Linked DNA regions of Homo sapiens: all the other regions are reported to be linked to region 2. Evidence: microRNA targets listed by miRTarBase, many of them from high-throughput screens and not tested one by one. Region 2 holds a microRNA gene; each other region holds the end of a gene's coding sequence. Distances are from middle to middle.

What was found. Region 2 holds the annotated microRNA hsa-miR-4464 (AAGGUUUGGAUAGAUGCAAUA, at 3,765-3,785, opposite strand). A microRNA usually pairs through its seed, bases 2 to 8, with sites in the 3' UTR of a target mRNA and lowers its output. Matches are read on the target gene's strand: a 7mer-m8 pairs with bases 2 to 8, a 7mer-A1 pairs with bases 2 to 7 and ends in A, and an 8mer does both.
Region 1: the mRNA of TTC39C is a reported target of hsa-miR-4464. Seed matches in the 3' UTR shown: 7mer-m8 at 6,880-6,886.
Region 3: miRTarBase lists KIF6 as a target of hsa-miR-4464. Seed matches in the 3' UTR shown: 7mer-m8 at 4,948-4,954.

Annotation. Positions count from the first base shown.
Region 1 is chr18:24,130,145-24,140,621 of GRCh38, reverse strand. TTC39C (tetratricopeptide repeat domain 39C) reads right to left here. Exons shown (of 14, transcript NM_001135993.2): 12 at 10,205-10,309; 13 at 8,702-8,740; 14 at 5,022-8,137. The coding sequence ends at 8,048. It overlaps CABYR (calcium binding tyrosine phosphorylation regulated), which reads right to left and starts at 1,560. Exons shown (of 6, transcript NM_153769.3): 1 at 1,504-1,560. RefSeq lists an enhancer at 1,916-1,975.
Region 2 is chr6:90,306,061-90,316,537 of GRCh38, reverse strand. It overlaps MIR4464 (microRNA 4464), which reads right to left and starts at 3,796; the gene lies at 3,705-3,796. All of the region lies in intron 1 of LOC105377891 (a long non-coding RNA gene), which reads right to left.
Region 3 is chr6:39,328,632-39,339,108 of GRCh38, forward strand. KIF6 (kinesin family member 6) reads right to left here. Exons shown (of 23, transcript NM_145027.6): 23 at 1,359-7,917. The coding sequence ends at 7,901. It overlaps LOC105375047 (a long non-coding RNA gene), which reads left to right. Exons shown (of 3, transcript XR_926774.3): 2 at 9,882-10,047. Among named protein-coding and RNA genes, the nearest start is that of KCNK16, 11 kb to the left of the region's middle. RefSeq lists enhancers at 1,532-1,611, 7,532-7,611.

The sequences.
Region 1 (10,477 bases), not on the chromosome of region 2:
AACAGGGTGTCTATAGTCAATAATTGTACATTTTAAAATAACAGAAAGAGTATAACTGGATTGTTTGTAACACAAAGGATAAATGTTTGAGGGGATAGATGCCCCATTCCCAATGTGATTAACATTGTATGTCTGAATCAAAACATCTCATGTGCCCCATAAATATATACACCTACTGTGTACTCACAAAAAAAGAATTTTTTAAAAAATCAGAAGTGGGGATTCCGCAGTCCCACATGCTAAATGCTAAGGGGCATAGGCAGCATGACATGTTTGATACATACATACTATTTGATACATATATATATTTGATACATACTCATATATATCATATGTCTAATTTTCTTTAAGTACCCAAAGTGAGTAGATAGACCGTTTTGAAAGTGGCTCCCAGAGGCCGGGCGCGGTGGCTCACGCCTGTAATCCCAGCACTTTGGGAGGCCGAGTCGGGCGGATCACGAGGCGAGGTCAGGAGATGGAGACCATCCTGGCTAACACGGTGAAACCCCGTCTCTACTAAAACAAAAAATCAGCCGGGCGTGGTGGCGGGTGCCTGTAGTCCCAGCTACTCGGGAGGCTGAGGCAGGAGAATGGCGTGAATCCGGGAGGCGGAGCTGACAGCCGAGATCGCGCCACTGCACTCCAGCCTGGGTGACACAGCTAGAGTCCGTCTCAAAAAAAAAAAAAAAGAATAAAAAAGAAAGTGGCTCCCAGAAACCATGATGGCGCCAACAACCTTTCAGGAGGCAGTTAGCAGTTGGTGCTACCAAAGGTGGGGACAGCGGCCATGCACTCCATGATCCCCCGTCCCACTAGTTCTCACCCCGACTTTGGGAACGTGTGGGGCCAGGGACGCTAAACGTCCTACAGTTCAGTTCCCCACAAAGAACTGTCCTAAGCAAGCTGAGAAAAGTCAACGGGTAAAATTGTCACAAACACTATTAGGGTTATTTAAAAGCGACAGCTTAATAATTCTTCCCAGATCTCTCCTATCACCAATACTGGTCCACCACTGGCGGAATTTAAATCCTGCCCCGCCCAACTGTAAACGTCCATGCGCCCACTACCACAAGGGTAACGCCTTAAGCGAGAAATACGATGCCTTTCAGGATGCCAGCGGGGACTTCGGAGCCATAGGTAACCGCACTCCCCGACCTCTCCCTAAAGAACCTCCGGGATGTGGGCCCCCGCTGTGTCAGTGCTCGTTTTGCGCTAGGTCTGTTTGGGAGAGACGGGAGTGAAATGTAGGAGGCTGGGCGTGCTCACATCGCCTGGACTTGTCCAAGAGAGGCGGGCGACGGACCCACCGAGGCCTCAGATTCGGCAGCTGGCCGTCTGGTCGCCGCACTCCCCGGTGTGGGCCGGGGCCGCCCCACAGGCCCCCCACCCCCGACTCTGAGGACCCTCCGCCTGCCCCGACGACCTCTCCCACTGCGAGAGACTCCCTGAGACATAATGGTCTCCGAGGCCGCAGGGTGCGCCTTTTCTCCAGATTCTCCCCACCTGCTTTCCGGCCGCGCTCTTAAGAGCTTCCTCGTTGCCCCCTTGCCGGCGGCTCCTGAGGAGACTTGGCGCTTGCGAGCGTTTTTATAGCCCCGCAGGCATCGGGGCGTGCATCACGAAGCTCCGCATCACAAAGCTCCGCACCACTCAAGGAGGCGGGGCCACAGCGGCCGCAGCCAATGGGGAGCCGAAAGCGACAAAGGCCATGATTTGGCCGGCGAGGGAGACTTATTTCCCCTTTTCTGGCTAAATCTGAACGGATTTAGGTGATTTCCCAACAAATAGCCAGGAGTAGCTCAAAGCGACTGCCTCTCCGTCTTTGGTCGTTGAGCTTAAAATTAGAGCTCGTTTGGAAAGAAAGTAAGAGATTTATGGCAGTGCTGTCTTGTCACTGCCTCGCCATTCCACACATTGCTCCTGGCCCCATAAACTATAGCTCTCTTCGGTCACCTTTAGGAATAATAATTTCTGCCACGTTGTAGACACACAGTGAATAATTGTATGCAACAGAGCACTTTTTCTTTTGTGAAACTCGCCTGTGGAATGGGAGTTCAGCATGAATCCAGAAACTTCCTGTTTCTCCACAGTTGAGATCAGACACCAACTATCCCCACAAAGCACACCGTCAGCAACAAGTCAAGGTGTTACTGTGTGTAACTTCAGCTCAATTTTACCAAACTAAAGGAATACTGCTTCATTTAAAAACGCCCACTCTGCCGGGCACGGTGGCTCACGCCTGTAATCCCAGCACTTTCGGAGGCCGAGGCGGGTGGATCACGAGGTCAGGAGTTCAAGACCAGCCTGGCCAAGATGGTGAAACCCTGTCTCTACTAAAAATACAAAATATTAGCCGGTCGTGGTGGTGGGTGCCTGTAATCCCAGCTACTCTGGAGGTTGAGGCAGAGAATTGCTTGAACCTGGGAGGCGGAGGTTGCAGTGAGCCCAGATCACACCACTGCACTCCAGCCTGGGCTACTGAGCGAGACTCCGTCTCAAAAAAACAAAAAACAAAACAAAAAAAACAAAAAAACGCCCACTCTCTGCTCTTTCACTCATTTAGGCTCAGGTATTTGGGCTGGGCTCTAAATAACACCATAATCATGATTATCAGAGTACAAGCAGCCTTAATTTTGATCCATCTTCAAATGTTTAAAAAGCAACTACTTTAAACCAAAGAGCATCGCCAGGGCAGATATCTGACCAAAAACAAAACAAAACAAAACAAAAACCAAACCAAAATAAAACAAAACCCTATTTTTTAATTCAGAAAAAATTAGGGCTTCCAGAGCACTTTGCAATAAAAGCAATGTTAAGGCCTCAGTCAGCATTATCTGGTGCCATTCATTAATCCACTTAATAATTATTTTACTGAGTGCCAGGAAAGCTCCCTCTTCTCGGGAAGTTTACATACTTAAAAAGGGAGAATTAGCGAGACTCCGTCTCACAAAACAAAACAAAAAAAAGGGAGAAATGCTTTTAGACTGAGTATGTTGGTGGGTCTGCAGATATTTTTCATCCTTCATCACTTGCCTCCAGCACCACTTTGGTAATGTAAATAAAAGTGAGATGAGGCTGTCATGATTTCTGATAGCTTGGTTTATAACACATTTAGGTGTCAGAGACATAATGAACTGAGCTACTGAAAATCCTAAGTACCTCATCTATGGTGTCTTTTGGAATTGGAGACATTTATGGTTTTTTTAACGTAACCTTGGTGGGTCATCTCAAACATCTATTAGGTGTAAGGTATTATGCAGAAATACCTGTAACTCAAAAAACAAGATTTTACTCTCCATTTCTTCAGTGACTGTTTGGCTGAGTCATTCTGAAATGCAAATTGTTACAATGTAAACATCTAACCAAGAATTTTCAAACCACTGCCCATCGCTGCTTTGATTTCTTGAACTCTTAATGATTTGATGTGGTTTCACAATCTTGGCTTGTGTTCATCTCCCTTTCAATCACCAGTATGTTATTTTTTGGTCACCAATGATTTAAAACGCAAATGTACCTTCCACTGCCCCTCTCCCACACCCCAAATCCTTACCCTATGGAAGTCCATGGTTGTGGGTGTGGCCTCTGCATACCTCTCGTATTTCATGTCTCACCATGTGATTCCCACTTGACCCTCCAGAGTCTTGAACACACATGTCGCTTATCACCTCTGTGCTTTTGCTCATTAGGTCCAAGGCCTTGGATGCTGCTCCAGCAAGTGTTTTCACCTGACTGCATCCTGCTTCTCCTTTAGAACTCATCTCAGAAATCTCCTACTTTAGGAAGCCAGTGGGTTAGAAGCATTTTCTCAGTGGCCCCATGATGTATGCTCTATGACTTATCCTTGCTATATAATTCTATATAATTCTGCTTGTGTTTGACTCTTCTCCCAGATTTACCAAATCCTTAACAAAAGATGAATAGGGCAATGTTTCTCTAATCCACATCACCTGCATAAGAAATCATCCCAGGAGCTTGTTAAAAATGCCTTCCCAAGCCCTACCTAGAACCTACCAAACCAGAATCTCTATGTAAAACACGGAAATTGACAACCACTGGCCTCTGGGAGGAGGAATTAGGCATTACATAGAGGTCACCTGGGTTTCAAGTGTGTTGCTTCTATTTCATACCCAAGTCAACTAGGTGACAGAGATCAGCCCCCTTGCTAGCTTTCACAAGAAAGCCAGTTAAATTGTGCTCTTGGTGATTTCTGCATACTTTACTGAAAAAGGAGCATTATCTGTTATGGACCAACTTTCTCTTGCTCCCCTTATCCTTCTCTCTTTCTGCATTTCCTCTTCTAGCTTCTAAAGTATCTGCCTCGACTATGTATCTTCTTGGATGATCTCGATTTAACAATTTTCTTTCTACAAAATATACCATCTGCAGAAACCAAAACAGTACATCATGATTTTGTGAATGTGTATCTTCATAGTGAAAACCGTATTTGAATACTTGCCACCATGATTTGCTTAAGGAAGAAATCCACTGGAAAAGTTTACACAGCAAAGGTGTGTGTCTGCGTGTGTGTGTGTGTGTGTGTGCATGCCTGTGCATGTGCTCATTTTAAAAATCAGATATGACTTGTCCTTTAACTTTAGTTGGCAGAGACAGAAAAGTGCAAATTCAGTAAATAATTGACTTACACAATATGTGACAATAAATACTCTAATTTTCTGTGACATCTAAAAGTTATAATTCTTTACTCAGTAGAAGACAGCTATCAGGTGCTAAAATAAAAAAAAGATACCTAACCCAATAAAGGCAAAATCTTAGTTATATTAACCAGCAAGGTACATATTACATTATTATTACTAGACCATGCCTCCAAGTGTGTCAAATTATAAAAATGTGTTCAGCATACATAAAATATACATTAAAGATTTCTCTCATCATAGGCACAATCTAATACAAAAATATATTTGACATTTATAAGTTAGAAGATCCATTGAGAGCCTCCAAAATAGGACAGGGGAAGGAATGAGTGATGACAACATAAAAAAAGAAGCACACATAGATGCAAATAGTTCCACTTATATGATTATTTTCTTCATCAGCAAAGGGTTAAGAGCAGTTTACACCAAACCAAGTTACCAAGCAGATCACAATCAGTTCACAGGTTGGATAAGTCACGGCACGCAGGCCAGAAAATGTACTCAGACTTCAGTCAACCTAATGGGACAGTGTACTCACACTGTGGTTTTGTTGTTTTGGAGTCTAGAAGCTCCATCTACCCATTCTCCATGGTCTACCACCATGTTAACACAGATTTACCACAGGCGCCATCTGTACCAAGCCTAGGATAGACTCTTTAAAAAAAAAAAGACCTGGCCGGTCACAGTGGTTCATGCCTGTAAGCATTTTGAGAGGACAAGGTGGGTGGATCATGAGGTCAGGAGTTCAAGACCAGCCTGGCCAAGGTGGTGGAACCCTGCCTCTACTAAAACTGCAAAAATTAGCCAGGCACGGTGGCAGGAACTTGTAATCCCAGCTACTTGGGAGGCTCAGGCAGAAGAATCGCTTAAACCCGGGTGACAGAGGTTGCAGTGAGCACAGATCACACCACTGCACTCCAGCCTGGGCAACAGAGTGAGACTCTGTTTCAAAATAAAAATAAAAATAAAGATTAAAAATTTTAAAAAGACCTACACTTTGACTAGTAAAGAAAACCTACAGGATGGTGTTGCAAAACGCAAAATTGTCTATCCAGTTAAGTGAGCTGAACACAAACTAATCTGAAGTCCTGAACTCTCTGTGGGGAAATAAAAGTATTTTTTTTAAGCAGGCAGAAATAAATGTTTTGAAAAAGATTCAAAAGCACAGGACCTTATATAATCTTTGAATGTGGAATAATAGTTCAAACAATATTTTGAACTGAAAATTCAAGAATGAACTCTCAAACAAAAATGTCATGATTCAGAATGCTCCATGATGATGACAGAAAAGCTTGTCACCTATGCTGCATGTTAAGAAGAGAGAAAAATGGCAACAGCCGTATTTTAAAGATTCATAATGTTCTTCCCTTCCATCTAGTTAAAACCAGATGTCCAGGCCGGGCACGGTGGCTCACACCAGTAATCCCAGCTCTTTGGGAGGCCAAGGCGGGTGGATCACGAGGTCAGGAGATGGAGACAATCCTGGCTAACATGGTGAAACCCCATCTCTACTAAAAATACAAAAAAAATTAGCCGGGTGTGGTTGCGGGTGCCTGTAGTCCCAGCTACTTGGGAGGCTGAGGCAGGAGAATGGTGTGAACCCAGGAGGCAGAGGTTGCAGTGAGCCAAGATCACGCCACTGCACTCCAGCCTGGGTGACAGAGCGAGACTCCGTCTCAAAAAAAAAAAAAAAAAAAAAAAAAAACAAAAAACAGATGTCCAATATTTTTGGGCACCAATTTTGCTCTTCAGAAAAAAGTTCCCTTCTCATTCACTGAATATAGGAGAGCAATCTCTTCTCTCTTACTATTATCTAAAACCCACACGGAATTCACATCAGGGAGAAAGTCAATGTGAATACACATTTTGGAAACAGTCTACTGAAAAGTGGTCAGTAACAGAGATGAAGAAATATGAATACTGTTTAGCCAAAATCAGTGAGAAATAACTTCTTTCAAAGAAATTATGACTATTCCCTCAAAACAAGGTCAAATCAGATAAAATTTGCCAACATTCTACTTGCTTTTCTGTTTTATTTTGAAAAGAAATATTAAAATATTAATATGAGATCATGTTTCAGCCAAAAGAATTTGTAAATAAACGATACCCTAAAATGATATCCTTTAGCTCAATAAAAATTTCTTTAAAAATCTAACCTTAAACATTGAGCCAAATTATGGCAGAGATTCTTAAAAGTGACTGAGGTATTTAGATTCTTCAAAACCACAGGTTTGCAGTACCGGGCATGGAGGTAAATTAAATGACAAAAATTAGCAATGAAGAATAAAAAAATAACTTTGAATTCCTTGTATAATATCTAAATAACCTGAGCTAAGGGGAAAATGATTAAATCCTGGCACTGTGTAGCCCAGCAAATGTTCCACCAGCAAATATTTTGAGGCCAAAATCTATGTTCATTCACGAATAACCTTTTCAAGTAATGTGTCAAAAGATTTCCAAAAGTTGGTAATTTGACAATTTTCACAAAGAAAGGTAAACTCCTAAAATGTAGATACTGTTTGTCTAATCTATAGACTAGGCTAATAGATTAGCAAAAGAGTCACACTTTTAGTTGTAAAATTATCTTCTATTAATATTTGCTCTTACTTGGTTGGCTTTCAAAGGAAAAAGAGTGTCCATCGCTTTGAAACATTCTGTAGACAATCTGGAGATGACTATTTCTGGTGACATAACTTCAGCTGAAGATTTTGTTCTTTTAATAAGTAAAACATGGAATTCTGGCCTATTAACATGAATTATTTTTACAATAAAAGTCAGTTGGTGGTCAGGAGATCTGCTTTCTATTCATTGCTCTGCTGATAACAGGAATAATTAATTGGGATAAGTCAATTTGCCTTTTTGTGCCTGAGTTTCACTGTCTGCAAAGTGGGGTTAAGAATATCTGTGCTATGTTATTCACTGGAGTATTTTGAGGATAAAGTAAAACACTAGAAAGCACTTTTATTTTTTCAAAACACAAATATAAATGCTATGTCATGATATTGTTAATAATTTTACAGGTACCTCATCATGTTACCCATTCAGATATGTGCTTAAGGTAGGTGTTCCTACAGGATCTTGGGTTGGATGTTCCGTTTGATTTTATTTTAAAAATAATAAATCACAAAACTAAAACGTTTGAGCAAGGTCACTTAACCCTCTCCCCAGGTGGTTAGTTATTATTACCATCATCATCCTCCTCAACATCATTATTACTTTTCAGCTACATGTTTAAAAGAGGAGATCTTTAATATGTCAGCTTAACTGGGAAAATGTGTCCCTGGCACAGGTGGTTTTCAGAAGAAAAGCCCATCTTCACAAGAGCTTTGTCCTCTGCTTTTATTTTAAAGTGCGGACCCTGGGTGGGGAGGGACGGAGCGGGTGTTCCGGGTCTGTCACTGAGGAACCAATTCCCTCAGAGAGGCCAGAGCAGCATGGATGCGGACATGCAATCTGTTTTCAAAGTCGTAGCCAGAGAAATCCTCCTGTAAGATCAAAGAAAGATATTTATGCACTCTGTTAGCTAAGCTTGCACAGGGTACTGTGGTATAAAGCACACTCAATTTTGCATTTCCCAAAGTAAAATCTCTACACTCCCAGTAAAGGTTTCCCATCCACTTGATTTTCATATTACTCAAACCTCAAACTTTGTATTCATTTTTAAAAACGTCAACTGAATGTCAATAAGGTTCTCTTTGGACAATTTTCCTCGAGTTATTCTTGAAAAAGTAGTCTTATGTTGTGCTCAATATAAGTTGCTATTAGAAATTCTTAATTCAGGGACATAGTTATAAAATCAAAAGTTATCTTCCCACCCAAAGACTAAGAGTGTTTCTAAAGCAGGATGAACAATTTCATCGAAGTTCCTTATGATCTTGTAATGTCCCTTAAAACTCAAGAGCTCACTGATTCAATTGGTTGTCATTTTTCCTTTCCAGAAATATTACCAACCAGAACATCATTGCACAAACTTTCTTGAATTCAGACTCAGGTATACAGTGTATGGGATAAGAAGGGCCACTGGAGAAAGGTAGATTCAGGATATTTACCTTTGCTTGAAGAAGTAGAGCTCTGCCTCTTCCTACAGTCTATAAGAAAAACACATTATCCCATAAAATCTGTGTTTATATATACGCAGGCAGAAAATGGTATAATAGGAGGCTATGTTAATTAAAACAATTCACTGTAGACATAGCAATGAGTCAACTGTTCATTCAAGTATAATGACTCCAATATTCTTCTTTTTTTTTTTTTTTTGAGATGGAGTTTCACTCTGTTGTCCAGGCTGGAGTGTGGTGTGCAGTGGCATGATCTTGGCTCACTGCAACCTCTGCCTCCCGTGTTCAAGCAATTCTCCTGCCTTAGCCTCCTGAGTAGCTGGGATTACAGGCACCTGCCACTATGCCCAGCTAATTTTTGTATTTTTAGTAGAGACGGGATTTAGCTCTGTTGGCCAGGTTGGTCTCAAACCTCAAGCGATCCACCCACCTTGGCCTCCCAAAGTGCTGGGATTACAGGTATGAGCCACTGCGCCCAGCCCCAATATTTTTTAATATAAAGATGTTTACTCATTTACATGAGGACATTACTTGATATATAATCACTTGATAAATAATTTTTCATAGTCTATAAAAGGCAACCTCTAAGATATAATATCTTAGGTTAAAATCTTACTAAACAACCTTAAAATTAATGATTATCAAAAGGTTTTATCTGAATCAGTAAGTTATACATAGCTATAAACTTTTTTTTTTTTTTTTTGAGACAGGGTCTTGCTCTGTTGCTCAGGCTGGAGTGCAGTGGCACAATCATGGCTCACTGCAACCTCAAGCTCCAGAGATCCTCTCACCTCAGCCCCCCAGGTTAACTGGGACTACAGGCACATGCTGCCACGCCTGACTATGTTTTTTGATTTTTTTTTTTTTTTTTTTTTTTTTTTTTTTTTTTTTGCAGAGATGAGGTTTCACTTTGTTGCCCAGGTTGGTTTTGAACTTCTGGGCTCAAGTGATACTCCCACCTCAGCCTCCCAAACTGCTGGGATTACAGGCATGAGCCACTGAGCCTGGCCATATTTTAACTTTTAAAAACTGTATTTTTACTATACTTTTTCTATATTTAGATACACAAATACTTACCATTGTGTTACGGTTGCCTACAGTATTCAATACAGTAACATGCTGTACACAATTATAGCACAGAAGCAATAGGCTATAGATACAGCCTGGTTGTGTAGTAGGTGATACCACCTAGGTCTGTGTAAGTACTCTATGATGTTTGCACAAGGAAGGAATTGCCTAACAACGCATTTCTCAGCATGTCATTAAGAGATGTATGACTGTAATTTGAATGCTAGGGAAGAAATTACCTCCTTAAAGATAATAAGGTAGTATTACTAACTTCTTGGATTCATTCTAAGTAAAACCAAGGAAAACAAAATGAAGAACACTGTGTTCAGTTTGTTTTAAATGAAGGGTGCTTTGTGCTTGCCCACTTCCACATTTTTGTTGAACAACATTAAAAATATATATTATATTATATATATAAGATCTTACCTCTGGTTTGTCTAATAGAAGACAGCCAAGTTCATAACAGGCATACGGCTGAACATATAAGTTATTCTGACGACACAATTCATCTTTAACAGCTCGCTGGAAGTACTGAAAGGAATGCAAATGTTATTGGATGAATTCATTTTCCTACTTAGCATAAGGCTTATTATAATCTTCAAGAGGGGGCGGGAAGGGGGACTCATACTCTGTTTTCTAGATCAGATTTTCTCTTCTTTCCTCATCTTCATTCTTTCCTATCTACATCTTAGAAGTCCT
Region 2 (10,477 bases):
TAAATACTTTGAAGAAAAAATATGCCTCTACTTGGAATTATTTAAGTTTGTTTAAAGGCAAAATTGAATGTTTTGGTCAAAAAAATCATTTTATTTTTCCATGGTAGCACTAAACACATTTTTAGTACCAAAAATGATTTCTACATGCTGAAAGAATGTGATTTGGTGTTTTTCCCTTCTAGTTTTTGAATATAATGCAGTACACGTAGCTAAAAGGCTTCTAAGTGGGTACTGACTGTTGATGCTTACGCTCTCCATAGTTAATATAAACCCTGGATTTACATGGGCTTCAATTTCCTTTACAACAGTTGCCTGAGTAGGATTTATCACCCTTGTCCTGGTGCACTCGGGAGGATAGACAAGGTGAAAAGAACAGCCTAGCTAGTTAGACTGTCTTAATGTGAAAGTGTCTTTGAGCAAGCACTAGCTTTAATTTTCCCTCCCAAATCAAAATATGATGCAGTTGTGTTTACACAGGGCTTGCATCTAGATCTTGACTTTACTTGTATATACTTACCTAAATGCTTAAGTATTTGGGATTTCCCCCTATAAATTACCTCTGTGGTAATCATACGCTGTTTGAGTAGCATCAAATAGGTCCACATCTACAAAAAGCTTTGTTAATTTAAGCAGAAGTCTGGTAACATAAAAACCCTTTACAATAACATGGAGCCCAGATGAAACCCACAAATGCAAGTTTAGAGGTTGAGCGATACTCCCTCCTTCATTTGCCCTGCTGCTTTGATAGTTGAGACTCGGTGAACCGGAACCAAATTCACAAGGGGCAAGCTTGCCATTTCCAGTCTCTTAGATTAAATTGAAGTCTTGTTTTTAATTTCATTTCCTTTTTTATTTAAAAAAAGAACTTGTTATTCACTTTTCACAACTATGCTAAAATGTAAGTTAACTGTCCCAGTGTTGCCTCTCTGCCTGGTTGCTCATTGGATAAAACACAAATGTATTATCAAAAATAGCCTTGGTGCAGGCAGCCCAGCACAACCATTACAGTTAGCTGAGGAGGACTCTAAGGAATGACATAACCAGTATCTGGGAATCCCCTACGTGGTGTTATACAAAAAATCATTAACATGTTTATACTCAAGTCCATTTCAGGTATTGGAAAAGAATAGCTGGGGTTTACACTATATTTTAAAGAGAAAATTATTGGGAAAATAGAATTAATCCTTGAGTTGAGCAAAGATTCATTGCCAACAGTTTTCTAGTTTTGAACCTTGACTCTGTTATTGATAGTCCTTGTCATTCTCAGCAAGTTTTTGAGCCTCAATTTTACCATCTATGACACAGGAATAATACAAGCATGCTTTATTTTCTGCAGTTAATGTACCTGTGAAAACTTGTGTGAATTGAATTGTGGAAAATAAAATTACAAGCTTTGAATATATTAGAAAAAATCAATATTTTAAGAAACCTCAAGATGAATCCTTTTGTCAAGTGAAGAATCTTCTTTATACCTTATTTTTAAAAATAAACCCAATTTTAGTATTATATTTTTTAAAACTAGAACACATTTTAAAAGGGAAAGAATGGTGATTTTTGTGGTCCTCATGGCCATGGGCTTCCCTCTCCTCTTGGAAGGTTTCTCAGGAACCACCTTGCTCTGCTCAGCTCCTTGCCGCAGTGCTGGGTTGGGAAGGTAAGGTGGCCAAAGAAGGGTCTGTGCTTGCAGGATGATTCCTCAGGCATTAAAAACACTGTGTGTTACTGAGAGGATTAAGGGAATGGGCAGTAGAAACCAGCGCTGGGGAGATGGAAGGTAAGAAGAATAGGCGGACTTAGGGCTGATGAGGAAGTTTAAAGCAGAACTGGTAGAGTGCTTGATGTGTTTGAGAAACAAATCGTTGCATGTGATTTAGATGTGATGAATGGAGAGTGACTGAAGGTTGGAGGTAGAGGTAAGGGCCAGGTTACACAAAGCCTCATAGACCAGGATATGATGGCTGTCCTTTATCATAACCTCAGTGTGAGACCCTGTAGGGGCTCTGAACAGAGGGGTGACATGACACCATTCACATGTTAGAAAAATCTTTTTACTGCTAGGTGAGTATGGGTTGGACATAGGAAAGAGTGGAAGCAGAGACTGTTTAGGAGCCAGTGCACTTGCAGTAGTAAGGACAGGAAAGTCTACAACCTGGATGGAGATGGATAGCAGTGGACAGGTTCTATAAATGGAATTTGAGGGTAGAATTATCAGGTATGGCTGAAAGATGGAATATGCGGCAGTGAGGGGAGGAGGGAGCCAATGATGACTCCTAGGTTTCTAGAATGAGTGACTGTGTGCCCTTCACTCTTCCCTTATTTCTCTATAGTCTTTTGGATATAATATCATTATTTCTGTTACTCCAGCTGTCACTCTATTCACAGCTATTCTCCAGCTCGAACCTCCCTTCTGAGTTTCAGACCCATATTTCCAACTGCCTGCTGCACATCAAATGCAATATCCCCTTCTTCATCACCCCCGTGCTCAAAAACTATGAATGCTTCCTAATTGATGAAGAAATTGAGAGCAAAGATCCATGTCTGGTACTCAAAATCCTCTGCCACATAGACACCAGCTCATTTTAGGAGCACTGTCCACAGAAGTGGCATGACATTGTGGGAAAGAATATGCAGAAGGGGATGGGTAGCATCCGCTTGGGTTGGACATGAGCACATTGAATATGGGGCTGTGCCTGGATTATCCAAGGAAATGAAGAGCTGCTCCTCTTTAAGAAGGCTTTTCACAAAAATACTGTTCATCTTAGAATCAGACGCATCCCAGTTTATAATAGGTGTCTGAAGGAAAGTCTAGTGGAAATTGGCTGCTTTTGTCTGCCCAACACCCCTCTGTCCCTTAAGATGGAAATGTGCCAGTCATAGTTTCTGTCTCTCTTTCCTTAATGGCAGTTCCATGGCATAAGCATGTGACCCAGCAGGGCCACACAAAGGCCCGCCAGAGGTGTGCATATGGACCCTGGGAGAGGAAGTGTTGTTGCCCCTCCCCAGAGATGTGGAGCATAAGGACCTGCAGTAAGGAGCCTGGAGCTGCTGGTGACCACCTTGCCCTTCACATGGCGAGTACCAGCTTGAGTATGAGACCAGCAAAGAGGAAAATGAAGCTGAGAGAGTGTCAGGGACCCCAGATTTGGCAGTCACACTAGGCAAATAGTGACTATAAGAATGGTGGCTTGGAGGGAAATGTGAAACATTCCAGCCCACTGTCCTCATCACAAGGAGTCAATGTTTCATTTCCCCTAAACCTGCTCCTTGCCTTTGTGGTGCTCCTTGTCCACTGCTATCCACCCCAGCCCTGGGCCTCCACTCAAGCCAGGGTAGGGGCCACTGAGGTTTCCTTACCTCCCACCTCACAGGCAGGCATCCATGTAGGCAGCAGTCCTGGTTTCTCTCTGGCCATTCCATGCATCCCTACCACACTAGGGCTTTGAGAAGCATGCATGACTACTCCACTACCTCTGCCCCCTCAATCACCAAACTGCGCCCACCCTGGGTTCCCAGTGGATTACTTCAATCCTAAACAGAACTAATTATCTAAACATTTTGAGAATTGTTCAAGACAAAATATGGCACCAGTATACCACAGAGTTGGATACAAAACATAACCTTATTTATTGGAGATCAGAAGCAGGAGCATTGAAACACACACACACATACTCCTACTACACACACATACACGCAGCACAAAACTCTGAATTAGTAAGGTTTGGATACATGCAATAAAGTATGTCCTTTCAGCTGTGGACATACTTTATTGCATCTATCCAAACCTTACTAAGGTTCCTGATTTTTAATAAACTTATAATAGATTGAAGCAATTTTTATTTGCTGTTCCTGATTTTTAATAAACTTATAAAATAATAGATTGAAGCAATTTTTATTTGCATTCGATTCCACATTTGGGGCCAGATTCTCTTTGTGCCTTCTTCTTTGAGTGAACATCGAATGTCTTTGGATGAGCACTGGGCTCTGTCAGGCCATTACAGTTACTGTTTTAGAATACTAAATGTGACACTAGTGACCTAGTGGCATTAATGCACCTTTCAAAAGTGCCCAGTTTTCTCCTTGGAAGTAATTTCAGCAGTGATAGGCTACAACTGAGTAATTTCTGATAAGCAATTAGCACATATCAAATCAATGCACATTACTCAAGGTTTTATACTGCTAGTGGAGATATAGCAGGGGTTACCCATTAAAAAGCATCTGTGAAAAACTTCTGCTGTTATTATGGAAGCAGTGGGCAATATTCAAATCGAGGCAACTCAACCATTAAATAAATGTATTTTTAATCATGAAATGTCACTGTTCTACAGACCTGTTTTTCCTATTAACATGTGGGAGATAATGTTAATGAGATTTAGTTAGTGTTTTAAAAGCAATTGAAGTCTTATTATGAAAGGCAGCAGAAAAGGACACAGCAATATTCTTCTAAGCTGTGAATCACTCCATATCTGTGTGAAATCGAATAGTGTAGAAATCTACATGGGAATCATCTAAGCAACAAAAACATAGAAGACTCCCAAACACTCCTACTCTATATCATTTTTCATACCTAAAATGAAATAAGAAAGCACACTACGGTTGGAAATTTTAATGGGGGGAAGGCCCCCATGTTGATATTTCAGAAAACAGTTCATTCTTGAAGTATGAATGTATTTGAGGTATCAGTCATTGTGTTTACCCATCAATAGTGACTCTAAAGAAAGAGTATCCTATGCACAGCAGATGCTGAACGTGAAGGCCTGGGTGACCATGATTTGTTCCTTGGGACACCCCTCCCCTCTCGCCACCCACCTCAAGCTGGTAAATTGATTGGACCAGGGTTGGGCCAAGGCAGCCAATCCATGCCCGGCCTGTGTTAAATCATAAGTGGAGCCAATCAGATTTTTCCTCACATGCATTTGAACTAAGATCTAATAAATAAGAAAATAGGAGTTGAAGCTAAAAGGACAGATATAGAATGGTCATGAAGAGTCATATCTTTAAAAAGGGACACATTTGTTTTTAAAAGTTTTAGAAAACAGAAATTATGAACATAAAGGGATATCTTGGCTGGACCCCAAGCCAATGCTCGAATTGGCTTGTCTGTGAGGTGGAAGAAGCCCTAGAGATCCTCTGTACATTCACAGAACATGCAAGGGCCATGCAATAAGAATCCAGCCACATTCCTCAGTTTTCCTGGGTTTGCACACACCAGCATGTCTGTTTGACAGGCCAGAGAAGGAGAGAAGGAAAGTGACACGGGCTAAATTGCAGGGAGCAACTAACCCCTGGAAGGAAAACCCCCAAAACAATGAAGAAATCCAGTAGGGTGGACTAGAAGAAGGGCTTGGGTGTGGGATGAGAAGAGTGGCTTTGAATACAGTCTGAAGCGCCATCTGAAATCCAGACTTTCCTTCACAATCTCCACTCCCAGGGAGGAGTGGTGTCATCCAACCAAAAGAACTCACACACACATACACACAGCACACCACCCCACAAAACTCCAAATTAGTAAGGTTTGGATAGACACAATAGAGTGTGCCTCTATTGTGCTTCCCATGCTTCCCATGGGAATCATCGTCCCCCACATCACCTAGACCAGAGGAGGCTAGCAGAAGCAGCCATTTCCTTAGGAGGGAGATGCCCGCAAGTGAGCGAACAGAGGTCCTGGGGTGTATTAGAGGTCAGGGTTGGCCAGCACCTCTGTGGAGCAGCATGGGCCGTGCTATCAAGCAACATGAACGAGGGCTGGAGTGGCAGCCAGAACAGCCATGGCAGAGCCACAGAAGCTAACAGAGCCATCTCCCCAATCCCCCACTGAGTCCAGGCAGAGCTGACGTTCTGCCACTTGGCAAGTGGAGACTAGTAATCCAATGGATGCATGGACAAATTACTCCAGGAGACTTACCCAGATGCTCAGTGGATGGGGCTGAGATTCACATCATGACTTCCCAAGTAAACAGAGAAAGCTGGTCAGAAGTTCAAGGAATGGAGCAGAGATACTCAGAGAAAAACAGAACCCCATAGCCCTTGAGAGACGAACCTGACAGCTTTAAAATTCTAGTTTCAGATTGAATCCATGTGTTTCCTTACCATTACTCCCCTGACCTCTTTCTCATAGTGCCTTGGAAAGGTCTCTACTTCTTGCAACAGAAGAACAATCTAATTAAATAAGAAAATTAAAATATCCAAGTACAAATAACCCCATCATTTCTTTGACCTCCAGCAAATCGCCAAGTTGCTAGTGTTTGCCTGTGTGACTAGCACGCTTGTCCTCCTGCTCTGTGCTTCTCCCATTTCCTTCCCTGAGCCTGTCCTGGTAGCTGACAGGTTTACAATCTTCTCGAGCTGGCATGTGCCAGGCTGCTCACCTCTGGTCTGACTGTGGAGTAGAAGTAGCATTACCAAGTTAGTGCTTCTGGGAGTGGGAGAGAGGAGTAGAAAAGGATACATAAATGCAGCAGAGAGGAACTGCACAGGAAGTAGAAGAAAAGAAGCAAACCAAGACTAGATATGGTGGCCGCTAAGTGGTTCCATAGAGATGATAGAGTAAGTGCAGGATATGAAAGCCCTTCAAGGAGAGCCAGAATCCCACCTTGCACCACTCCGCCTTGAAGCTACCTATCCACCATGCCAATCTGGTCCATATTTCCCAATCTCATGCTTACCAAAATTAAAGGCACCACCAATATTAGAATCAAACGAGACACCAAATCTGACAGCCAGTCAAGTCTAGAAAGCAATCTTTGGCATTTTGTCAGCAACAAAGTACAAGTCTCCATTTTTAATTTTGGGAACTTTCATACTGTACAATTTACTATTTTCCCCATAGCCACCAGTGCTATTTGCCATCTACTTGGTATCTGGACCAAACCCAAACATTTGCTGGCAGAGGCAGCTTATACTGGCTTGGGCAGCCTTGCATGTTGGTCATGAGAAGAGGCCCTGGAGCCAGAATTCGTGAGTTCAAATCCTGCCTCTGGTACTTGATAGGGGTATGTCATTAGAAAATCATTTCACTCCTCTCTGCCAAGCTTCCTACTTCCCAGGGTGCTTGGGGTGACCAAACCTCCTGAATTGCCCCAGACTAAGGGGCTTCTTGAGATGTGGGACTTTCAGTGCTAAAGCTGGGAAAGTTCTAGGCAAACTGGAATGAGTTGGTCATCCAGAGATAAAATAAGATACTGCAAGTAAAGCACTAAGAATAATGAGTGTTCAACACATGTTAGCCATTGATGTTACATGAACCTGCAGCTAATGTGACTACTGGAATGGTCATGCTTTCCCCTAGACTTGGGACTCTGGGACAAGGTCCTGGACTTTTCTCAAAAGCAGGACCCCTTCCATTTCTACAAAGTCCTAGTACTGAGAATAGGACCAAGATGAAGGTGGGTGTGCCTGTGCTGATAGTGAAGTCCATGAGAAGATGGAGAGTGAGTCAGACCCCAGGCTCCTCTTCTGGCCCAGAATAATGCTAGAAGCCAACCCTCCTTCACCATCCTCCCCTAGACCTGAGCCATGCTGGCTGTCTGGCAGATCTACAGACAGAATTTGATCTACTGAGCAAAAACGTCTAGTTTGTAGAGTCAGATTGCCTCTCAGAACCCCCTGACTTCCCTGATAGGAGTTTCAAGGAGTTTCTGAAGAATGAAAGGGGCTGGCAAAATCAGGACAACCCTGCACACTCTGTTCTGCCATCCTGGGGGTTCCATTTCTTGCAGACTCTCCAGACATTTTATTTCTGAGGGCCTTGTGAGTTTCCTCACCTGGTCTCAGATATAGAAGCGAATGGTGTACACTTCAATGCAGGGCTTAAGTACTTACAAGTTCTAGACTGCCTGAGTGTGATTGAAGGCAGCTTATCCTTTTTAAACCTTGATTCCACATTTGAAAAGTTGAGATAATAATTATCAGTATTCACTAAGCACTTACTATGTCCTAAGGATCTGACATACAATATCTTAATTAAACTTCAAGACAAGCCAAAAAGGTATGCATTTTAGAAATCCCTTATTATAGGACTCTGAGGCACAGAGAGATTAAATAACTCAAACTCAGACAGTCTGACTCCAGAACTCAAACTCTCAACTCTATGTCTGCCTCACTGGGTTATTGTGAAAAACAAATTAACACATGCATAGACACTTTGTACATCTACATGCTCAATAAATATTAGGTGTCTTTTTAAAATTTTTATTTTACTTTAAGTTCTGGGATACATGTGCAGAATGCGTAGGTTTGTTACACAGGTACACATGTGCCATGGTGGTTTGCTGCACCTATCAACCCGTCATCTAGGTTTTAAGCCCTGGGATGCATTAGGTATCTGTCCTAATGCTCTCCCTCCCTTTGGCCCCCACCCCTCGGCAGGCCCGGGTGTGTGATGTTCCCCGCCTTGAGGTATCACTTTTTAAGAGGGAGGAGGAGGGCTGAAAAGATAGTCAAGGTAAGTGGTTCAGCATCAGTATACCATTTGTTCACATATAAGAATAGACAGTGGGTCTACTAAGCTAATCTAACACTATTAGACAATTTTAACAAGTGTTTATTGAGCACATACTCATTGACAAGTGCTATACAAAGAACTTGGGGTCTAGCTCTGAGCAAAACCAGACGCCGTTTCTACTGTCCTGAAGCTTATGGCCCAGAGAAAAAGATAAAAAATGAGCAGGTGACTCCACTTGAAAAAAGAGGAATAAATGAACAATTCAAAAAGGAAATTTAAGAAAACAATTCCATTTATAATAGCAATAGAAGAATAAAATATTTGGGAATAAACTTAACCAAGGAAGCAAAAGACTTGCATACTTAAAAATTATAAAGTATTACTAAAAGAAATTAAACACAAAATAAATGGAAAGATATCTCATGTTCATGAATTCAGACTTAATATTGTTAAAATAGCAATACTATCCAAGATTATCTACAGACTTAATGCATTTCCTATGGAAATCCCAATGGTGTTTTTTGCAGAAATAGAAAAATCCATCCTAATTCATATGAAATCTCAAGGGACCTTGAATAGCCAATTCAGTCTTGAAAAGGGACAAATTTGAAGGTCTTACACTTACTGATTTCAAAACTTATTACAAAACTATGTTAATCAAAACAGCATTGTACTGGCAGAAAGACAGACATATATACAAGAGAGTCTAGAAAAAAACCTCTCATATATATGGTCAAATGATTTTTGATAAGGTTGTCAAGATCATTAATGGGGAAAGGAGAGTCTTTTCAACCATGCTGGAAAAATCAGATATCCACATACAAATGAATGAAGACAGACCTTTACGTAATACCATATACAAAAATTAACTCGAAAATGGATCAAAGACCTAAACATAAGAGCTAAAACTATCAAACTCTTAGAAGAAAATACAGGGAAAAAACTCCTTGACATTGAATTTGGCAATGATTTATTGGATACGACACCGAAAACACAGGCAACGAAAGTAAAAATAATCAAATTAGACTACATCAAAATTTAAAACTGTCCATCAAAGGACACAATCAATAGAGTGAAATGGAAATCTAAAAAATGACAGAAAATATTTGCAAATTATCTATCTGATAAGGAGTTCATATCCAGAACATATGAAAAACTCCTACAACTCAACAGTAACAACACAACAACCCAATCAATAAATGGGCAAGCTGAACACAGTGGCTCATGCCTGTAATCCCAGTACTGAGAGGCCAAGGAGGGAGAATCGCTTGAAGCCAGGAATTCAAGACCAGCCTTGGCAACAAGTAAGACCCTGTCTCTACAAAAAGATTTAAAAATTAGCAGTTTAAAAACTACAGGTATGATGTGTACCTGTAGTTCGAGCTACTTGCGAGAAAGAGGCAGAAGAATCACTCGAGGCCAAGAGTTTGAGGCTGTGGTAAGCCATAATTGTGCCACTGCATTCCAGCCTGGGCAACAGAGTGAGACCTTGTCATTCATAGATAGATAGATAGATAGATAGATAGATAGATAGATAGATAGATAGACAGGAAAAGGAATGTAATGGACATTTCTCCAAAGAAGATATACAACTGGCCAGCAAGCACACACACAAAATTCTCAATATCACTAATCATTAGGGAAATGCAAATCAAAACCACAATGAGATACCACCTTACACCCATAAGGATGCCAACTATTAAAAAAAAACTAACGTGAAAAAAAATAAAATAAAAAGTATTGGTGATGATGTGGAGAAACTGATACCTAGAGTAGTCAAATTCATAGATATAAAAAGTTAAAAAGTGGTTTTCAGGGGTTGGGGAGTTGTTTCATGTTTTGCAAGATGAAAGGCATTCTGGAGATTGGTTGCACAATATGAATGTACTCAACTCTCCTGAACTGTACATTTAAAAATGATTAAGATGATACATTTTATATTATGTGGATTTCACCATAATTTAAAAAGTAAATTTTAAAAAAGAGGGGGTGGATATAATTATAATAATTGCTGCAAAGGATTTAGGTCCAAGGTAC
Region 3 (10,477 bases), 51 Mb from region 2:
ACACAATGCGGGTGTGCGTGGTTCATCTGGGACCTGATCCAGGATGCGCAAGCAGGGGAGTGGGGAACAGAAGGCAGTCGATTCAGGGTGTGTTTTCGCACAGGTGACTGTTGCGGGCAACTGGGGCCCCATCCCGCTGGGGACCTCTGGGAGACTGTGCAGAACACACTGTAGAGTTGTTCCACAGAGTGGCAAGGAAGCTGGGGTGTTTATCTACCAACTCTTGTCCCTTGTTAATTGAAGATTGCTCCTGGGGAGGTTAACTCCTGCACTGCCAGCCTGCCCTGCCTGTGGGCTGAGAGCACTCCTGCGGCCAGAGAGTCCCTGTGGGTAGAAAGATGCAGGTGCTTAGGACAGAATGCTACTGGTATAGATGGAGGCTTTCCACAAGTGCTGCATGTGACCTCCAGGCGGGCTGGGGGGATCTGGCAGAGTACTGACACTGTCTGTCACAGGCTCTAGTTCTCCACTCCTTTGTCTGGGTCACTGTGGTTTTGTCATTCCTGCAGGGAAATTGCTCTTCTGTGAACCTTAATGAAGGGGTGGTCAGCTTGTCCTGGCATATTAGGCCGGTGCCCTTGGAAGCATGACAAGAGTGGGAAGACCATACCCTCATCTCTTGATGGCCACTCAAATTGAAAAAAGAAATTGTTTTTATTGATTTATTTATTTTGAGATGGAGTCTCACTCTGTCGCCCAGGCTGGAGTGCAGTGGCGCGATCTCAGCTCACTGCAACCTCTGCCTCCCGGGTTCAAGCAGTTCTCTGCCTTAGCCTCCCAAGTAGCTGGGATTATAGGCAGCCGCCACCATGCCTGGCTAATTTTTGTATTTTAAGTAGAGATGGGGTTTCACCATCTTGTCCAGGCTGGTCTTGAACTCCTGACCTCATGATCCACCCTCCTCAGCCTCCCAAAGTGCTGGGATTACAGGCGTGAGCCACTGTGCCCGGCCATGAAAGATATTGTTAAAAGATCTGCTGGCCATCCCCTGTTAATGAATCTCCCTACATCCCCTCACCTCTTCAGACTATAAGAAAAACCCATAGCTTTGAGAGTCATTGGAGCTGCAGCAGCAGCAAGAAGCCTGGGCTGCTGTGAGCCAGGATGTAGATGAGGGGTGCCGCTGAGACAGGGAGGAGCAGAGCGTCCCCAGGGCCTGGGAGAGATACTGAGCCCAGAAACCAGAGGAGAGACAGGGCCAGCTGCTCTTGGTGTGTGAGGGTCCTGGCAAATATTTTTTTGTGGATGGACCCCTGTGTGTATAAACAATTTGATGAAAAAAACTTAGTACCAAATTCATGAGCCCATGTGAGGTATAATGATTGATTTGTGTAGATTTAGAATAATGACAGAGAAGAGGCACTTAGGCATTTGTTTATTGTCTAATTGGTTCACATGACGATTCTTTGTCCTATGATGTTAAGAGTCCATCAAATCAGCATGTTAGCGCAGGTCTGGTGGCCCAATCCCAGGTAGTGCCATAAAAGAAATGCCACACCAGCCAGCGGGAATGATCTCCTCATCAGGCTGCTTTCCTGGAACCAGGGACTGACTAGGAAGCCCTAAAACAGCTTCATAGGCATAAGTCCTAGAGCACCTTGGGACATCTGGTCAACCCTATGCATGCACTGGAGAACTTCCTGAAAGAAGAAAAGGGAACTGAGACCCACATGAGGCCTGGACTATGTTAGGGGTGGCCTGCATGGATGACGTTGTTGGTCATGGCTGGTCCCAGCACCAGAGGGAGACTTAGAAAGTTTTTAGCAAAGCATGTCAAAGCACAGGTTACCCCCAAAACATGGGGCTGAAGGCATGGGGACTGCTTGCCTCAGTCTAAAGACAGTGATGGAAAAGACAAACCCAGGAGATGTTTCGGAGAAAAGAAAACAACAACATCCCACACCTGGGGCCAGAAGGGGAGGGGTGCTGGCCTGGGGAGGGGCTGCCCTCCTGAGATCAGGAGCTGAGTGAATGGAGAGGGAAGAGTACCAGCTGGCATGCTGCTTGCTCTTTGCTGAGTTCCCTCTCAGTGTGGGTGAAACTGGCTCAGCCCTGCTGGCTGGCACGAGGCCATGGAAAACCCAAATAAAGCAGTTAACTCTGAAAAGGTTGCTGCTTCCTCCTATTCCTTGGGAGATGCATTCAGGGCTACACTCAGAGGCCACTTTTCGCAAGGTGAGGAGGAGCTTGTATTCAAGGAAACACTGCTTTTTCCTCCCACATTTGACACATATGTTTTCAACATCCAACATTCACAGCCAACCTCTCTACACCTGCTCTGCCTCGGAGCCCTGGCAGTCCCTGGACACGTGTTATGGAAGGAACACTGTCTCCCCCACATGCTCACATGGCCCAAATCCCCACAAGTCCCCTTTTTGCCAAGCTCCACGTCCTTTGCCTCTTCCCATCACCCAATACCCAACCTGCCATCATTGTCCTAAGCTTCCCTTCCCTGCTTCTCTCTTTGCACCTTGCCGGGTTCTCACACTCCCACCCACCTTGATAGTGAGTCCAAGCCCATCCTACCCCACCCCCAACTCCTTCTTCTTTTTCTGAGACAGGGTCTTGCTCTGTCATCCAGGCTGGAGTGCAGTGGTGTGATCACAGCTCACTGCAGCCTTAACCTCCTGGGTTCAAGGATCCTCCCACCTCAGCCTCCCGAGTAGCTGAGACTACAGGCGCTTGCTACCATGCCCAGCTAACCCCAACTCCTTCTTAATCAGATTGTCTTGCTTACTTGTTTATTGTCCCTCTCTTTTTTTTTTTTTCAGAGAAGGAGTCTCGCTCTTGTTGCCCAGGTTGGAGTGCAGTGGCACGATCTCAGCTCACTGCAAACTCTGCCTCCAGGGTTCAAGTGATTGTCCTGCCTCAGCCTCCAGAGTAGCTGGGATTACAGGTGCGCACCACCACACCCAGCTAATTTTTGTATTTTTAGTAGCGATGGGGTTTCGCCATGTTGGCCAGGTTGGTCTCAAACTCCTGACCTCGTGATCCGCCAGCCTCAGTCTCCCAAAGTGTTGGGATTACAGGCGTGAGCCACCATGCCTGGCTTGTCCCTCTCCTTCGTTAGAAGGTTCCAAGAATGCTGGCACTTTCTCTGTCTCTGTCACCTCTGACTCCTCAGAACTTAGCACAATGGATGGCACATCCTTGTCAAAACAATGACCAGATGAATGAGACATGCTTATGTTTAAGGAATTACAAGGAGCATTTTTTCTGCCTAGATTTGAAACACACACCCATTGCATTTTAAAAAATGTTTCTGTCTATTTACTCTATCAACTGTGCCATGCCTGGGGCTGTTTCTATTTGTTTTTTCTTTTTTTTTTTTTTGAGACAGAGTTTCACTCTTGTTGCCCAAGCTGGAGTGCAATGGCACAATTTCGGCTCACTGTAACCTCTGCCTCCTGGGCTCAAGCAATTCTCCTGCCTCAGCCTCTGAGTAGCTGGGATTACAGGTACGCAACACCATGCCCGGCTATTTTTTGTATTTTTAGTAGAGACGGGGTTTCCCCATGTTGAACAGGCTGTTCTTGAACTCCTGACCTCAGGTGATCCTCCTGCCTCGGCCTCCCAAAGTGCTGGGATTATAGGAGTGAGCCACCACACCCGGCCTCTATTTCTATTGATGGTTTTTTCTCCTCTCATGGCCCATATTTTCCTGCTTCTTTGCATGCCTGATTATTTTTTAATGGACACCAGACATTGTGGATTCTATATTGTTGGATGCTGGTTTCTTTTTGGTTTGTTTTTCATATTCCTTTAGATATTTTGAAGCTTTGTTTTGGGACTCATTGAAGTTACTTGGAAACTTACTGGAAACAATTTGACTCCTTTGGGGCTGGCTTTTTAAGCTTTGTTAGGTGGGACCAGAGCAATCTATCATCTAGGACTAATTTGGCCCCACTTCTGAGGCAGTACCTTATGTGTCTCTATACAATGACTGTTTTGGGAGGTTTCTCCACTCTGGCTGTTGGAAACATGAACTCTTCCCAACACAGTGTTATCTCAGGAAATTATTCCACCTGCTTCCTCCTGGTGGTTCTTTCCCCTGCCTTGGGTAATTTCTTCACATGCAGATGTTGATCGGTAGTTAGCTGAAGACTCAAGGGTAACCCTCTGAAGATCTCCAGAGCATGCTCTCTCTCTTTCTCTCTCTTTTTTCTCCTCTCTCTCTCCTTCTCTCTCTCTCATCCCTGGGACTCTGCCTTGCAAATTTAAGCCACTTTGTCCTCCCTGGATTCCCAGCTCCATTTCCTCAACTCAGGGAAACCACTGGGCTCTACCTGGTTCCCCCTTCCTGGGCTGCAGCCTGAAAACTCACTGCAGGCAGTAAGTTGGAGCAATCATAGGGCTCCCCTCACTTGTTTCCCTTCTCTTGCGGATCAATCATACCCTATATTGCTTGTTATCCAATGGCTGAAAACCATTGGTTTGTATAGAGGATTTTGTCTCATTTTTAGTCATTTAAAGCAGGAGGGTAAATCAGGTCCTTGTTGCTTCATCATGGCTGTAGGTGGTGGTCCTGCTTTTCCATATACAGGATGCTCTCAGTGCCTTTCCACAGGCTGCATGGAGAGACAATGAACTCTGCACTGAGAAATCCTAGATCCAGTCATATACTGTCTCTGGGTTCCAATTTCTGTGCCAGTCTGCTATTGCTACAATTAATGCTATATAACAAACCACTCTAAACCTCAGTGGTTTATGACAAGCAGCATATATTCTCATGCCAATAGGTCTTTGGGTGAGCCATAGTTCAGCTGATCTGGGCTGGGCTTGCCTGGGAGGCTCTGCTCCAGGCTGTAGACTGGGCTCAGGTCTGCTCTCTGGATGTTCCAGGCTGAAGGGGCAGCAGCTACCCATGGCATGTTCATCCCAAGAGAGATCACTGGAGCAAGAGGCAAGCTCAACCATGAGAGCACAATTCAAGCCTCTGCCTGGATCAGGTTTGCCAACACCACATTAGTCAAAGTGGGCCATGACAAAGCTTTGGATGTGTAATTCTATACTGGTGGTGAAGAATTAAAATGATGTATTCAGTATACCACAATTTCTCTATCTGCTTTCTAAAACTCCTTTTTAGCAAGATCTGGGCAAGCTACATTTTAACTTCCCTCCTCCAACCTCCGTCCACCCTACTTCTTGTCAAGGGATTGGTAGAGCCAGTTGAATTCTAGCAGGGACTGGGCTGGAGTCACTGGCTAGGCTGCTTTCCAGAAAATGTTTTTGAAAATCCCACATTTTGGCCTAGAGTGAACTCAGATACTTCTTGTCATCCGTGGCTCCACTGATCCCAGGTGGATTGCTGGAAAGTCTTTTCAAAACATTGCATCAATTTCTCCCATTTGCAGAGGCCAGTGAACTCTGGGAAGGTGCACTGCTGTCAAGCATGTGTCCATATCAAAGGCTGGGCTTCCATTAGGGGATGTTCGGAGCAAAAGGCCCCTTGGCCAGTTGCTGCACACACTTTGCATATGCTCTGGACACCAGTGGCCCCAGATCCCATGTTGTGTGTTTTTCTGTCTTCATTTCCTTTCCTGTCTTAGTGATTGCCCCAGGAGGCTGGTTCACACCCCGCATGGGGCCATGCCACACATCTCTGTCAGTAAGGCCTTTGGATCCAGGAGATGATGTCTCAGTGGGAGATCTAATGTTGAAAGACTCTGGCAGGGTATGTGGCTCATGCCTGCAATCCCAGCACTTTGGGAGGCCAAGGCGGGAGCATCGCTTAAGGCCAGGAATTTGAGACCATCCTGAGCCACACAGTGAGACCCTGTCTCTACAAAAAATTTAAAACGAGCTAGGTGTGGTGGTGCATGCCTGTAGTTCCAGCTACTTTGGAGGCTGAGGTGAGAGGATCGCTTGAGCCCAGGAGTTGGAGGCTGAGTATGGCTTGAGCCCAGGAGTTGGAGGCTGACTAGTGAGGTATGGTCGCACCACTGCACCCCAGCCTGGCTGACAGAGACCCCCCCCATCTCAAAAAATAAATAAAAGAAAGTAAAAATAAAAGAAAATAAAAGTTAGTAGACTCTACCCAGCTCTAGAGGGCTGAGGGCACTAAGGCATGCCAAGAATACTGCTGCTGCTACATAGGGGACTGGGGCAAATGCCATGCCATCTTCAGGGCTCTTGAGAGTGTGTGTGTGTATGTGTGTGTGTGTGTGCAGTTACATGTGTGTTCCATGGACTCTTGGGGAGGCTTCTAGAATCAGAATTTGGTCTTCCTCTGGTTCTACAGACTTTACAGAGGGCTTACTATGTTCCATTGAACTGTGAGGGCCAGGAGTGGACCAGAGATGCTGGCCCCTGTCCCGATGGGATTCAGTCAGAGCCTGGGGGAAGTCAGAGTGACACCAGCCTGAGAAACACATCTGGGTTCTGGCTCGTCTACTCATGAACTGAAGGACCGTTTACTGAACAGCGACTCTGTGCTTGGGACACAGCAATGAGCAAGACAAACAGGTCCCTGTTGCATTGGAGCTCTTAGTATTATGGGGGGTTGCAGGTATTTCAAAAATAGGCAAGTTCGGAAGGATAACATGTCAGATAGTGATGCAGAAAAAATGGTAATGGGATAGGGGATAACTAGGGGGTGACTCGAGATGGAGTGGTCAGGGGAAGCCCCCTGAAGAGGGGACATTTGTCAGTGGCATAGAACAGCAAGCTGAATCTCCCCTTCACTCTGGCCTTCTAATTATATAAAATAGGGGTGTGGATTAGAGGAGCTCGATGGGCCTGCCTAGCTTAGAAATGTAATGGTTTAATCTTCTCCTGCATGATCCTGTTACCCAGTCCTAAAAAACGAAAAAGAAAATCAAGCCAATTATACTATATTACCACTCTGCTCCCCTCCAGGGTCATCAGGTCCTGTATTTATAGGACAGAGACACCAGGAGCAGTGGACCAGCACTTTTATCCAGTTAGCTTCATTTCCAGGTGCCACTCCTGCTCACCCTCCGCTGCCCCTCCCTGGCTGCAGCTGGGTTGGAACCCCCTGGCCCAGGGGGCAGTTCTTCAAGAACCTCCTTGAGGGCTGCCCACCTTCCCTTGGATCTGTCATGGAGAGGGCCCATGGAGACAAGACCCCCAGGCAGCTATGTTTTTCCCTGTGGAAGTGGGGAGTGTCAGCCCAAATCCTCCCAAGTGGCTGGGTGAAGGTTGTGAGGCCCAAGGTACCCACACTGCCCTCTCTCAAGCTCTCAGCAGAGCCCCTGGGAGCTGCCCACTGTTCTCTGGGTGCTATGATGTCCTTAGACCCTGCAGGGCAGATGGCTCCCTGGAGACACAGCTGTTCAGGCACTGCCTCCAGGTCATCCTGGCCAAGAGGCTGATGGTGAAAGATGTGGTCTGGGAGATCAGGATTGGCCTTCAGGATGCCCTGCATTCCACTGCCTTGCCTGTGGCTGGGACATCCTGCCTGGACCTGTCATGGCCATTTCTGGGCTTCCAAACCAGAGCACGGGCCAAGGGAGAGAGCTGGCAAATCGTTAAAAATAAAAATATTCCCCCCACATTCCACTGGTGTGAGCATCCTCTGACATTATATTTTGATGGTGCTATTTCACATTCTCAAAAGCTTATAAAGATCTACACAAAACGTCACTACAACAGTGAGCTGAAGCCTTCACCCTGCCCCTAGCACTCTGGCCTTGCCTGGCCCTGCCAGCAGCTCCAGCAACCACAGGAAGGATGTTGTGGTCAGCCCCAGCCCCAGCCTCTCGGTGGCCTCCAGGTCAGCATCCTTAAAGAAACACAGTCCCCTCCATGGGAATCAAAGTCACTAGTTGCTCCCAGCAGCCCATAGTTCACTTCTGAAGCCAGAGCAAGTGAGGGGCGCTGCCTTCATCTGTGCTTCATTCTTGCTGGCATAATTCATGGATGGATATTTCCTGGAAATTCAATTGCTTCCCAAACCTGAAAGGGAGACAGGATGCTTTTGGTTAGGCTGTGCATGCAGACACTGACTTTTCCCAGGATTGAATCGGGGGGAGGGGAGGCCACCAGCCACTCCCCCTGGGTCTTGGGCACTGCATCTGTGTCTTGCCTCCCAGGAGCTGCATTTATACCCCAAGCTCTGAAGGAAGAGGCCCCCTTTGCCCTTTGCAGAAGCTCCATCTCCCTAGGCTGAGACTGACGCCTGTTTTCCTACCCCACCGTTTTCTTTCCTTTTCTTTCTTTCTTTTTTTTGATGGAGTCTCGCTCTGTCACCGAGGCTGGAGTCTTGTCTTTTCCTTCCTTCCTTTCTTCTGTCCTTCCTTCCCTTCCTTCCCTTTCTTCCCTTTCTTCCCTTTCTCTTCTTTCTTTCTTTTTCTTTCTCTTTCTTCTCTTTCATTCTTTCTCTCTTTCTCTCCCCTTCTTTCCTTCCTTTCTTCCCTCCCTCCCTCCCTTCCTTCCTTTCTTTTCCTTCCTTCCTTTTTCTTTCTTTCTTTCTTTCTCTTTCCTTTCTTTCCTTCTTTCCTTTCTTTCTTCTTTCTTCTCTTTCTTTCTTTCTTTCCTCCTTCCTTCCTTCCTTTCTCTTTCTTTTCTTTCTTTCCTTCCTTCTTTCTTTCTTTCTTTCTTTCTTTCTTTCTTTCTTTCTTTCTTTCTTTCTTTCTTTCTTTCTTTTTCTTTCTTTTCTTTCCCTCCCTCCCTCCAGCCTCCCCTCCCTTCCCCTCTTCCTTCCTTCCTTCCTTCTTTCTTTTTCTTTCTTTTCTTTCTGGACGGAGTCTTGCTCTGTTACCCAGGCTGGAGTGCAGTGGCACAATCTCGGCTCACTGCAACCTCTGCCTCCGGGGTTCAAGTGATTCTCCTGCCTCAGCCTCCCAAGTATCTGGAATTACAGGCACCCACCACCACGTCTGGCTAATTTTTGTATTTTTACTAGAGATGGGGTTTCACCATGTTGTCCAGGCTGGTCTCAAATTCCTGAGCTTAAGTGATCCTTCACCTCAGCCTCCCAAAGTGCTGGGATTACAGGTGTGAGCTACCACACCTGGACAACCCCATGGTTTTCATTGATGCTCCTACCTAATCCTCAGATTCTCTCCTTGCTTTTTCCTCCAGATATTAATTATATTCCAGGATGGCTCCTCCTGACCATGTGGCCCCTATCCTGTCATCTCCCATGGCTGGGCATGGAGAGGGTTCTCTGGATTGAGAACCAGGGCCCTTGCGTTCTAGCCAGGACAGTCCCCAACCCACGGTGTGACTTTGGGCAAGTCATGTCAGTTCTCTGGGCCTAACATTTCTCTTTGCTGGAGCAGATGAGATACCTGGAAAAAGCAAGGTGGCTTCTTGCTTCACAAAATGTGGTCCATGGACCAGCAGTGCTGGCATTTCCAGGGAGCTTGTTAAGAAAGGCAGAGTCTAAGACATGGTCCACCCTGGACTTACTGGATCAGAATCTACAGTTTGACAAAACCTGTCGATTCATTAGCACATTAAAATGTGAGAACTGGTAAGAGTGATATGCAGTTATTTTGCTTAAAGTTTGGCTAATTTAGTAAGAGCAAGAGAGAATTTCTGAGATTCTTGGATGAAGTAATAAATACAATGTTTAAAAAAATTTCAGTGGACAGAGAGCCTGAGGGGTGAGGCTGCTCAGGGAACAGGTGAGCAGGCAGCTGCAGCCCTCCAGGTTCGGCCACAGGAACCTGGTACTGGGTGACGAGTGTTAGCTTGGTTGGCTTGATATTGCTGTGGAAGAAAGGGTAATTCTTGGTGATACATTGAATGGCCAGCTAGTGCGGAGGAAGAGATTGGAAATAATTCACGGCTGTGAGCCCTTGGTCTTTCAGTTCTAATTCTGTGTGCAAGACCTCTGGCAGGCCTTGCTGTTTAATTAAACAAATATGGTCCTTATTTTTAAGACATTCTGATCTGTCTGAATTGAATTCTAGAACGGGAAGTAAGAAGACAAGTACACCGAGCCTATGATGGTCATGTGTTCCTGTCACTCTGGACTTGTGGTTCCCAGCTCTGCTACACAACGGAAATCTCTGGAGAATCTCTAGACATCCTGGTGCCCAGACCACAGCCCAGAACCATTCAGTCAGGATCACTGGGGTGGGTCCAGGTGATTCTGAGGCATGGCCATGGCTGAAACTCACTGCTTTTGTCTCTCTAGTACAAGGACTGGCAGGGCAAGAGCTGGGGGCCCGTGGGCACGTGGCTGCTGATGAGATCTGGGCTCTGATGTTTCTGCTGCACTGTTGAAATGCAGCCTGGGCCAGGATTGTGAACGCTGCCGGTGGTAGGGAGCATGGAGTCTGAGCCATCTCCCACCCAGGATGGTCTCTGAGCCCCTCACACACTTGCATGCAGTAATGACAGGGGGTGGGTGGGGTGGGGCCTGGGAAGAAATGCTACAGAATAGGGGGGAGAGCACGCTCTGCCCCAAGACATAGCTCCTTACATGCACAGACCTCAACACAAAAGGCACCATTTCAAACTCATTCACTTTATGGGCCCCAGTTAAGTGATGAAGCTCTGTCTG